Homo sapiens: one gene and its partners. The protein of the gene in region 1 purifies or fractionates together with the protein of each later gene. This does not show direct contact. Each region holds a gene or a part of one and is shown in the gene's direction. Other genes may lie near its edges.

Region 1 (3,652 bases):
GACCGTGGAGTGGGTAGCTCCTCACTGCAGCTGGTAGTTGGATATCTCTTCAGCTTTCAGCAGAGGAGACCCTGGGGTGGGTAGCTTCTCCCTGCAGCTGGTTGTCCCATCATCTTCTCAACTCCCGGCAGAGAGGAGACCCTGGGGTGGGCACCTTTTCTCTGCAACTGGCAGGTGGTTGTCTCCCCAAGTCTGGCTGAGTTCAGGCTTTTATAGGTCTCAGCAGGGAGGGTGTGTGTACTGATTGGTTCATTGACAACCATGGGTGAGCCTGGAGAAAGCACCACAAGTTCCCACTCTGGTCATCGGGTGCCAATGGAAAGCCTGGTCCCCAGGCTTCAGGCCTTCCCTGGCTTGAAGGTGGGGTTTCACCAGGGACCTGCCTCCTTTTGCCCAGGAGCCTGCCTGCCTCCTCCTGCTGTTCATGGTGCCCAGGCTGTTTGTGACAGGGGGTGCCTACAGGTACTGAGCTGCCCTCAGTACCCCCTCAGCCTCCCTCTAGTGTTTGTAGGCACCCAAAGTTTAGAGGGGGCCAAGGTGGCAGGGGGCTGGTGTATCAGTGCTATCTGGAGCGTGTGCACACTTGGCCAGGCTGTGACAGTGCCCAGTCTCGGACCCAACCTTTCTCTGAGATTGGAGTGGGTGCTGGGAGTGAGGAGAGGCCAGGCAGTGGGAGCAAACACCTCTGAGCCTGCAGGGACTGGGCGGGGGGCCTTCCTGGGCCTCTGAGAGTGCAGACATGCCTGGGTCTGCAGCTGCAGCTTGGGCGGCTGCAGCTGTGCCTGGGAGGGTGGGGCTCCTGCCTGCTCCCATCCCCCAAGAGCACAGTGATGCCTGGGTCTGCAGCCCACCTGGGCAGGTGGCCGCAGCTGCACCTAGGGAGCACGAAACTCCTGCCCTGTCAACTCAGAAGGTGGCAGGGTTCCCACCTGTTCCTGGCTTCTGCTGCCTCCATGGAGCACGCAGTCCTGGCTGCACCTCCCCCACTGCAGCTGGTATCATGGCAGTGGCCGCTATAGATGGGCCGCTGCTGCCATCGGTGGCATGCACTTACAGTCCCAGCTACTCGGGAGACTGAGGCAGGAGGATCACTTGAGTCCAGAAGGTTGAGGCTGCAGTGAGCCATGATTGTGCCATTGTACTCCAGCCTGCATGACAGAGACAGACCCTGGCTCTATAAAACAAAAACAAATACAAAAACAAAACAAAACAACAACAAAATAAAGTGAGTTAATGGAAAAGGAGCTGTAGGAGTGAGTCAGAAAAAGAGCAAGACTATCAGGAAGACTACAAGAAAAATAACTATGTGAGTACACTTTCAAGAACTAGAAATTGGCTGCTTTAGTCATGCCATAGTGTGGTGTGTTAAAATGAAGAATGAGGAAAGACCTTTGGATTACCAACTCTGTGGAATTTTGTGACTTCTCCGGAGCATTGTCAAGTAGCTTGCTATGTGGGAAGAGTGGTAAGGGAGTAGAAAGTGAGTTCCCAAATATTTGGGAATATGGTGATTTTCAAATACTATTTTCTGGACCAGCAATAACAGAATTACCTGCATTTCCTCAACTCATAACTATTGTTGAGCCTGGTAATGTACATTTAAAAAAAAATTTTGTTTGTTTGTTTGTTTATTTATTTATTTATTTATTTAGAGACGGAGTCTTGCTCTGTCACCCAGGCTGGAGTGCAGTGGCATGATCTTGGCTCACTGCAAGCTCTGCCTCCAGGGTCCACGCCATTCTCCTGCCTCAGCCTCCGGAGTAGCTGGGGCTGCAGGTGCCCACCACCATGCCTGGCTAATTTTTGTATTTTCAGTAGAGATGGGGTTTCACCATGTTAGCCAGGATGGTCCTGATCTCCTGACCTCGTGATCTATCCGCCTCGGCCTCCCAAAGTGCTGGGATTACAGGTGTGAGCCACCGCACCCGGCTGGTAATGTACGTTTTGAAAAAGCTCCCCAGATGATTTTGATGAAAGCTCATGTCTCGGATTTGCAAGTACAGATTTTCCAAGCTGTTTAGTAAGGACTGGCTTGTGATCAAGATGGATTTCTGAGTGGTATTTTGAGACAAACCCTCCTTTTTGTAAAAAAAAAAACAAAACAAAAAAACCCACAAAGCAGTAATTGATAAAATAACAAAGATAAAACCAAACTGACAAAACTAGGACTCAAAAAAGGTAAACACTTCTGTTTCAGGAAGGAGCAGGTGTGATTTTGGCTGCTTTGAAGTAATGGGGAAGTGTAATTAGAGTTGGGCTTATTGTTGGAAACAGTGGTCCAAGATAGGACTCCTGTTAAAAAAGATGTTTCTAAGTTTACTTCCAGGGCTGCCATATTATACAACTTTAGGGATTAGATTGTAGTTACTTAGTACAGTGGTCTTTAACCTTTTTGGCACCAGGGACTGGTTTCATAGATGAAAATTTTTCCACAGATGGGGTAGTAGGGGATGGTTTTGGGATGAAACTATTCTGCCTCAGATCATCAGGTATTAGATGATTAGTTAGATTCTCTGGCATTAGTTAGATTCTCATAAGGAGCATGCAGTTTAGATCCCTTGCATATGCAGTTCACAATAGTGCTTAATGCTTCTATGACAATCTCATGCTGCTGACGATCTGACAGGAGGCAGAGCCCAGGCAGTAATGCTTACTTGCCTGCTGCTCATCTTCTGCTGTGCGGCCCAGTTTCTGACAGGCCATGGACTGGCACTGGTCCATGGCCCAGAGGTTGGGGACCCCTTAACTTAGTACATCTCCTGGAGTGGTACAGGTCACAGCCTCCCTGGCTGTAAGAAGATTTGCTGCTGACTGCTGCCAGATGCCATAGCGTATATGAAGCAAACACTTAGGGATTCAGGAAAGCAAACATAGCTATACAACTAGGAACCTGGTAACTCAGAGTATATCCTCACTGTTATTGCAGAGCAGAATCTCCAGCTAGACTATCTGTAAGAAAAATATTTATGAGATAACTGAGGAAATTTGGAAATTTGAATATCAATTGATCATTTAATACCAAAATTTTTAATTTTTAAAAATATATTTATGATACTGTAGTTCTCTTAAAAAAGTAGTAAACATGTTCTCAGTAAGTGTTTGTATGAAAAACAAAAGAAGTTCCATCAAAAGTGCACTTGTAAAGCTAAATTCTCAAATATATGAACTCATCTCATGCTAAGGAAGATATGAAATAACCATAAGAGCAGTTCCGTCTGGATGACATTTCAGTGTTAGTCTGAAAAATATTAAATTACATACTGAGGGTTTTCAAAAAGAAAAGGAGTAATAGCCCTTAAGTATAAATAATTTTGAAATGTAAATCGGCGGAAAAAAGATGAGGTGGATTTGAAAATGACAAAAACTTTAGAAGTGAAAAATATAGTTGTAATTTTTAAAAGCCAACAGCATGGTGTTCATGAATGAGAAGAGTCAATTAGATGTCAGTTCTGTCCAATATTAATCTGTAAAGTCAATGCAGTATTAAAATCTGAAAAGGTTTTTTTTCACGATAGTAAACATGCAAACTTAAACATTTTTATGGTAGTGTAAATAGCCAAGGTAAAATTTGTAAAGAACAACACATTAAGGTAATGTGCCCTTCAGATACCAAAATTTATTATAGGACTGTAGTAATTAACAGAGGTTCAGG
Region 2 (3,652 bases), about 20 Mb from region 1:
TGTCACTCTTACTATCCCTCCCCCGGTCCAGTCAGCCATTATGTCTCTCCTGTTAGAAGGACCTTCTCTTTCCTGCTTCAGTATTTGCTGTCTTTAGTTACCACATCGCAGCCAGGGTGGTCCTGTTGAAAGACAAGGTAGATCATGTCATCTCTGCTCAAACTGCATGATGGCTTTCCATCAAACTCAGGGTAAAGCAAACCCTTTGTTCTAGTACCACTCTGACTTATCTCCCATTATCTGCCCCAAGCTACTCTCCTTTTGCTACACTTGTCTAATTGTTGTTTCTTTGACATACCAACCTGCCTCTGTCTTCTGGGCTTCTCTCCATCTTCCTAGAACTCCTTTCTTTCTTCCATATGAATGTTTGGTGTATTCCTGACTTCCTTAATTTTCCACTTCTTAGTGAGGCCTTCCTTTGTCTCAAAAAAAAAAAAATGTCTTATTGTTGCCCAGGCTAGAGTGCAGTGACATGATCTTGGCTTACTGCAACCTCCTCCTCCAGGGTCCAAGCAATTCTTGTGCTTCAGCCTCCCAAGTAGCTGGAACTATAGGCATGCGCCTTGCCTGGCTAATTTTTGTATTTTTGGTAGAGATGGGGTTTTACCATGTTGGCCAGGCTGGTCTCGAACTCTTGACTTTAAAAAAGTATTAACAACCCTATTCTTCCCAACAGTGCCATCACCCTTAGCTTACTCTCTTTTTCTTTATAGCATATGTCACCATAAGACCTACTTTACAGAATTATCTGTCTTTATCCACAAGATTGTAAGATCCATGAAGGCAGGCACTTGGTCTGTTTTGTTTCATAACTGTATTCTCAAGTGTCCTGCGCATAGTAGGAACTAAAAGGAATTTTGAATGTTCAATGAATTTATAGACATTAAAGGAAAGGCAAGTGGAATTTTTATTTTTTGTTTTTGAGACAGGGTCTCACTCTGTCATCCATGCTGGAGTACAGCAAATGGAATTTTTAAAAGTCACCACCTATTTAGCCTAAAGTTTCCCCCTTTATTTCTTTCATTGCCTAACAACCTAGAAATGCTAACTGAGCCCTAACATAGAACTATAAAACTTCCTGTTTTACAAGTCTAGTCCAACCCTTCATTTCATTGATGTTGAAATAAAGTCCTAAGAGATGTTAGCTATTGTCTCTGAAGTTATAGCCAGTAAATTAGTGGTACAGTTAAGACCAGAATCCAGATCTCTTGAATCTCAGTTGCTTTTTTTTTCACTAGTTTGTGATAACCTTAATATGAGACCAAACTTAAAGAGTCAGTTCCCTATGGAAACAAAGCAGCAAAAACTAAATACATCAGTAAGCAGAAATTGAAATAGATAAGTAGATTGGTGATAGTCAAAGCAATGAAACCTGCTGATGATACAATTCAAACTTTTCCCCCCACTGGTCATTATAATATTTAAATTAGTTTAGTATGTTTATTGTGAAATAAGTAAACATTGAGGAATGTGTTTTTTTGTTTGTTTTTTAACCTCAGGTGCACATGAACTTGAACAGATGCAGCTGATTTTAGAATCTATTCCTGTTGTACATGAGGAAGATCGTCAGGAGCTTCTCAGCGTAATTCCAGTTTACATTAGAAATGACATGACTGAGCCACACAAACCTTTAACTCAGCTGCTTCCAGGAATTAGTCGAGAAGGTATTGTGACTCGAGAGTAACCCTCACGTTAATGCCTGTGTGTGAGGCAGAATCTGTGTAGGGAAGCTGGAGCTTTTTATCCTTAGATATGGGGCTTTCTCCAAAATAGTCTTTAGACACTTAAGGTGTACGTAAAACTTCAACTCTCATTTTCCCTTTTTTTGTCCTGTTACTTGGGCTACGATCTGTTTTTTTGGTTCCTCTGAATCACTTTCCAGAGCAAGTAGCAAGTATTTTGAATATAGGCACTGGGGACAAAATCATGATGGCATTTTTTCCCTCAGATATACTTGGAACTCCTGTAAATGCCTGGATAAAAAGAAAGCTGCTGTATTTAATTTCAGCCGGTTTTGCAGGCTTTTCAGTAGTTCCACATTCTTAATCAGTCTTTGAGTCTGTCTGCACAAATTCCATTGCTAGCTCCCTTGCTCGTAACCCTGTAGCCACTGTCACAACATCCCTGTTCATATCTAAATGAGTCCTCTGTGGGAACACTTTATTTTTATTTTTTATTGAAAAATAGAGACAGAGTCTTCCCTGGGCTGGTCTTGAACTCCTGAGCTCAAGCAGCCTTTCTGCCTCAGCCTCCCACAGTGGTAGTATTACAGGTGTAAGCCACCACACCTGGCCAAGGAGCACTTTTAAAATGCTGAACTAGTAATTCTGAATTGGGAGGTGGAGTGGGGAACAGGGTGGGTGTCTGCATACCCTCTCTAAGGTGTGACTCTGCTCAGCCAGGTGAAGACACTGTGTGCAGTGATAACCTGGATCCACTTCAGAGTAGTTGTCACTAATCAAGAGGACGGTGCTGTTGAAGCATTTGTAACCTTGCTGTATAATGCTATTTGAATCTTTTTCGTACCCTCATTAGGGTGGGGACCATGTTTTAATCTTTGAATTAAACTGAATATTTGGCCACTGACTGGGGTTTATTAACCATTGAGCAAAGATCCTTGGTGGTCACATGTGGCAGCACTGTGCTTGCAAGCAAGTGAATGCAGAGTGGATGGAGTTTCTGAGACTAAAGATTTATCAATTGTATGCTCCATACTACTTTCTTCTTAACAGTGGAGTTTTATTTTGGGACAGAGCACATTCTGAGGCAGTGGCAACTTGGTAAAAAGAATACATGTTCTCACCCCACATTCTTTATGATCTTTGAAGGAAAAAAGCAAACAGGATTAAGTACATCTGAGTGAACGTATAAGACTCCTAGGAGCCCTACTCTGGTTAATTTCCCTCTATACTTACCTCTCATCCTTTCTGTAGTATACCATATATTTCTCTAAGCATGGTTCAGCACCATTGTAGCATTCCTGTAGTCCTAGCTGTTCAGGAGGCTGAGGCAGGAAGATTCCTTGAGCCCAGGAGTTCAAGGCTACAATGAGCTATGATCATGCTATTGCACTCCAGCCTGGGCAACCGCAAAGATGCTGTGTCTTAAAATTATCTTTCTAAAGAAAAGAAAAGGGTTCTTTCTAGAGTACAGGTTGGCTTGAGAGAGAAAGGCCATCTTTCTCACTTAGAAGGCAAGGATAAGAGGATGTGTGAGTGACCATAGTGAAGAGGTAGGGATTGAGACAAATGTGAAGTGGGTTTATCTGTTGAGAATGATAAAGAAGACCGAGAGCATAAAGAGAAGGCCAGATAGCAAAGGTCACAATGAAATTGTTTAGTATGAATTTGTAATGAGCCAGATATGGGATATTGCAGCTAGTTTTCATCAGTTTTGTGTGGCCAGGGAGCAGAGAGAGTAGATGGTGGTGGTGATCCAGGGTTGAAGGTTGATATCATAAGGCATAGAAGTGTGTGGCTGGTGTAAATATAGCTTTCAGGCTGCGTGAGGAACTAAGGAAGGCCTACTAGACTATTTTATGGGAAGAACTGGATTTGTGGTTAACCAGAGTCCTAAGATGTGCAAGGTCAGTGTGTGAACTATGCTGGAGTGTGATGTGAAGCAGAGATCAAGAAATTAGTACAACAGAGAT
Region 3 (3,652 bases), on another chromosome or scaffold:
TCGGTCAGTTTTTTTTTTTTTTTTTTTTTTGGAACAGAGTCTTGCTCTGTCATCCAGGCTGGAGTGCAGTGGTGTGATCGTGGCTCACTGCAACCTCTGCCTCCCAGTCTTAAGTGAGTCTCATGCCCCAGCCTCCCAAGTAGCTGGGAGTATAGGGTGTGTGCCACCACACGCAGCTAACTTTTGTATTTTTAGTAGAGATAGTGTTTCACCACATTGGCCAGGCTGGTCTTGAATTCCTGGCCTCAAGTGATCGGCCCACCTTGGCCTCCCAAATTGCTGGGATTACAGGCATGAGCTTACCGCACGCCTGCACGCAGCCTTAAGGTCAGTCTTTGTAGTCGTAAAATGAGTCTCCACTGCTTGCTTATGGTGCAAAAACCAAACTCATTATAATAAATATAGGATTCAAGTCCTTTTAGAGGCTTTTACCTTTCCTGCCTTACTCCTACCACTCTTATTCCACGTTCCAGCCTTGCTAGCCTGCTGTACTCACACTAAATTACTTCTGGTGTTTCTAACAAACCATATTATGTTCCACACTACCTAGCACACTTAAACTCATCCTTTTAAGATCTAGGTTGCTGTTACCCCTACTTCTCTCTGCTTTTCCCCAGAGATAATTAATTGCACTTTCTTACTACCAAGATACTTAGTACATTATTCTACTAGTGCACCTGTCAGACCATATTGTAGTTACTTATTCATATTTTCAGGTTGCTATAAGCCCCTTTTGGGAAGGTCTTTTACGGTTACAGGCAATAGAGTGTAGAGGTTAACAGCTCAAGTTCTGGAAGCAGACTTATAGATTCAATTTGTGGCTTCCAAATTCACTGGCTATGTAATCTTGAGCAAGTTAACTACCTCTCTCGTCTGAAAGAAAAAGGTGGGTGGGGTAGACAGTAGTACAGATTATAGTTCATATTGACAGATTTTCACAAAGATTAAACAAAATCTACATGAAGTGTTTTACATAGTACCTTTCATGTACTAAATGCCTTTTTTTTTTTTTTTTTAGGCAGAGTTTTACTCTGTCACCCAGGCTGGAGGGCAGTGGCACAATCTCAGCTCACTGCATCTCCCAGCTTCAAACAATTCTCCTGCCTCAGCCTCCCCAGTAGCTGGGATTACAGGCGTGTGCCACCACACCCAGCTTTGTGTGTGTGTGTGTGTATTTTAGTAGAGACGGGGTTTCACCATGTTGGCCAGGCTGGTCTCAAACTCCTGACCTCGGCCTCTACTAAATGCTTAATAATTGTTATCTATTATTATCCTCATCAAAGTTCCAACTCCTAGTACAGTGCCTGGCACATAATAGACATAATTCAATGTTTGCTGTACTTTTAGTATGAATCAAGAACATCATTTCTAAATAATCACTTGAAGAAACCACTTTCTCATTGAATATTGAGTAATTCATTCACACAACCTATTATGGAGAACTCACTGTATGCCAAGCACTGTAGTGGGTTTGGGGAATATAAAGGTAAACAGTATGTGTTCTGCCCTTACCAAAATAATGATTTTGTGGGGGAGATACATACAAGTAAAGCAGCAATTACTATAGCTTGATAAGTATAGGGATTAAGCAAAGGGTACTATCAATGTGCCAGCACATAGCTGGATGTGGTGGTGCATGACTGTAATCCTAGTACTTTGGGAGGCTGAGGCAGGAGGATTGCTTGAGACCAGCCTGAGCAACATAACGAGACCCCCCTTCTCCCAAAAAAAAAAAAAAAAAACCTATGTTACATAAAAACTCTCTAGTATTATCTTGTTCTGCTTCTTCTCCTTACCCTACATGTCACCATGTAAATCTCCTTTGAATTCCCACCTTTGGGGGTTTTAGCTGTCTTCTCTTTGCCTGGAAAGCTGAGCTCTCTCCTTGTTATTCAGGTCTCAATTTAAATATGACCTCCTTAAAGAAGCCTCTCTTGGTCCTCCAGTCTCAAGTAGCTATCCAGTTTCTCTCTGCCACATCCACCTGTTTAAATTATCTACATGGCTTGTGATTTTTCAGGATTTATTACTGTTTTGTGTTTTCTTATTTATTTTCTATCAGTTTCATGAGAGCAAATAACCTGTCTTGCTCTTGATCCTCCTGCCCCCTGCACACAGCTTTTTTGGTGTTTTAGAAAAGGCTATAAACTTGGAGTCAGGGGACCTAAATTAAATGTTGGTTCTGGCTGCATTTTTTACTTCCTTGTGTGCTCTTTAGAAGTCATACCATCTCTCTGAACCCAATTTATCTTGATTTTTGGTGCTGTGTTATTAAAGCTTGCTGTATAGTTCGGGATCTCAAGACTTTTCCTAGTCCAAGGCTAGGTAACTGTGTTACCTTCCTCTTGGCTATTACTGCATAATTAGTGCCTTGTCCTCCACTAGATGGTGGTGGCTTGGCCCTGTGTCATCATCTTGGATTTTCCCCTCCCTCACCTCACTGTTGTTTCAAGGTTTTGTGTAGAGTCTATAGGTGGGATTGGAGTGATAGGAACTCCCCTTGGATTAATTGGCTTCTCTGCTTCTTTGTAGGTGGATTGCTCAGGTAATGACCTGGAGCAGTTACACATCAAAGTGACTTCACTGTGCAGTCGGATAGAGCAGATTCAGTGTTACAGTGCTAAAGATCGCCTGGCTCAGTCAGGTAAGCCTCTAACCTCCTCACTCTTTCTGCCTTCTTGCTTCCTGTTTTTATGATTATTACACCCCACCCTCAGTGCCTACCACCCTTCTCCAGACCCCATGCTCAGTGCTTGACTCTAGTTTTTCTCTCTAGACATGGCCAAACGTGTAGCCAACCTGCTGCGCGTGGTGCTGAGTCTGCATCATCCTCCTGATAGAACCTCCGACTCAACACCAGACCCTCAGCGAGTCCCTTTGCGCCTCTTGGCTCCCCACATTGGCCGGCTTCCCATGCCTGAGGACTATGCCATGGACGAACTGCGCAGCCTTACCCAGTCCTATCTGCGAGAACTGGCTGTTGGGAGCCTGTGAGCCCCAGGCACTTTGCATCACAGTCACATGCCCATTCACACCACACAGAGGTTCCCTGCCTTGTTTGGATTGGCACTGTTTGCCATTCTCTGGGTTGGCTGTGGCATCTACCCTCCCTCCCTGCTGCCAGAAGCAGCATCCTCCACTTGTTCAGGGCTTTTCTTAATACTGAACGTAGCATAAGGGCTTCTGGAACCCAGAAGAGGAGACAGTTTACCATCCTCAAGATCATTCAGTGTTTTTCCTTTAAAAAAATGGTCAATAAAGCTCCTTTGGCAGAATCCCCCAAAGAACCAGGGTATTCTTTTTCCATCCCTAGCCATTCTGGATCTTGTGACCCTCCATGCCAACCAGCTTCCCTACTCCTACCCTGGCCCTTTTATACTAGGACTCCTTAGGAGGAGTGAGACAGGTGATAATGGATCCTTAACAGATGAACTATCCACAGAAGGAAGAGGGATCCGTCTCTTAAGTAATTGGTTAGTTAACACTGAATTTTGGAGGCAAAGGAGGGTTGGCCTGAGTTAGGAAACAAAATGGGATCTTTCTGACACACTTAGGGCAGAAGTGAATGCCTGTCACGGAGGGATTGATCTTCAGGGCTGTTTTTGTTCCTGCCTTTAGAGTTCCATGAACACCATACCTTTGCTACTACTAT

What was found.
Region 2: the proteins of MYO9A (region 1) and MAPK6 purify together in Homo sapiens (co-immunoprecipitation; one large-scale study listed by IntAct). This does not show direct contact.
Region 3: the proteins of MYO9A (region 1) and NUP98 purify together in Homo sapiens (affinity purification with mass spectrometry; one large-scale study listed by BioGRID and IntAct). This does not show direct contact.

Annotation. Positions count from the first base shown.
Region 1 is NC_000015.10:72,048,606-72,052,257, reverse strand, and holds part of MYO9A (unconventional myosin-IXa), read left to right. Parts: intron 1-3,652. UniProt on the Homo sapiens protein: Myosins are actin-based motor molecules with ATPase activity. Unconventional myosins serve in intracellular movements. Regulates Rho by stimulating it's GTPase activity in neurons.
Region 2 is NC_000015.10:52,057,134-52,060,785, forward strand, and holds part of MAPK6 (mitogen-activated protein kinase 6), read left to right. Parts: exon of another isoform or gene 1-122; intron 123-1,499; coding exon 1,500-1,664; intron 1,665-3,652. UniProt on the Homo sapiens protein: Atypical MAPK protein. Phosphorylates microtubule-associated protein 2 (MAP2) and MAPKAPK5.
Region 3 is NC_000011.10:3,675,501-3,679,152, reverse strand, and holds part of NUP98 (nuclear pore complex protein Nup98-Nup96 isoform 1 precursor), read left to right. Parts: intron 1-2,532; coding exon 2,533-2,644; intron 2,645-2,776; coding exon 2,777-2,994; 3' UTR 2,995-3,652. UniProt on the Homo sapiens protein: Plays a role in the nuclear pore complex (NPC) assembly and/or maintenance. NUP98 and NUP96 are involved in the bidirectional transport across the NPC. May anchor NUP153 and TPR to the NPC.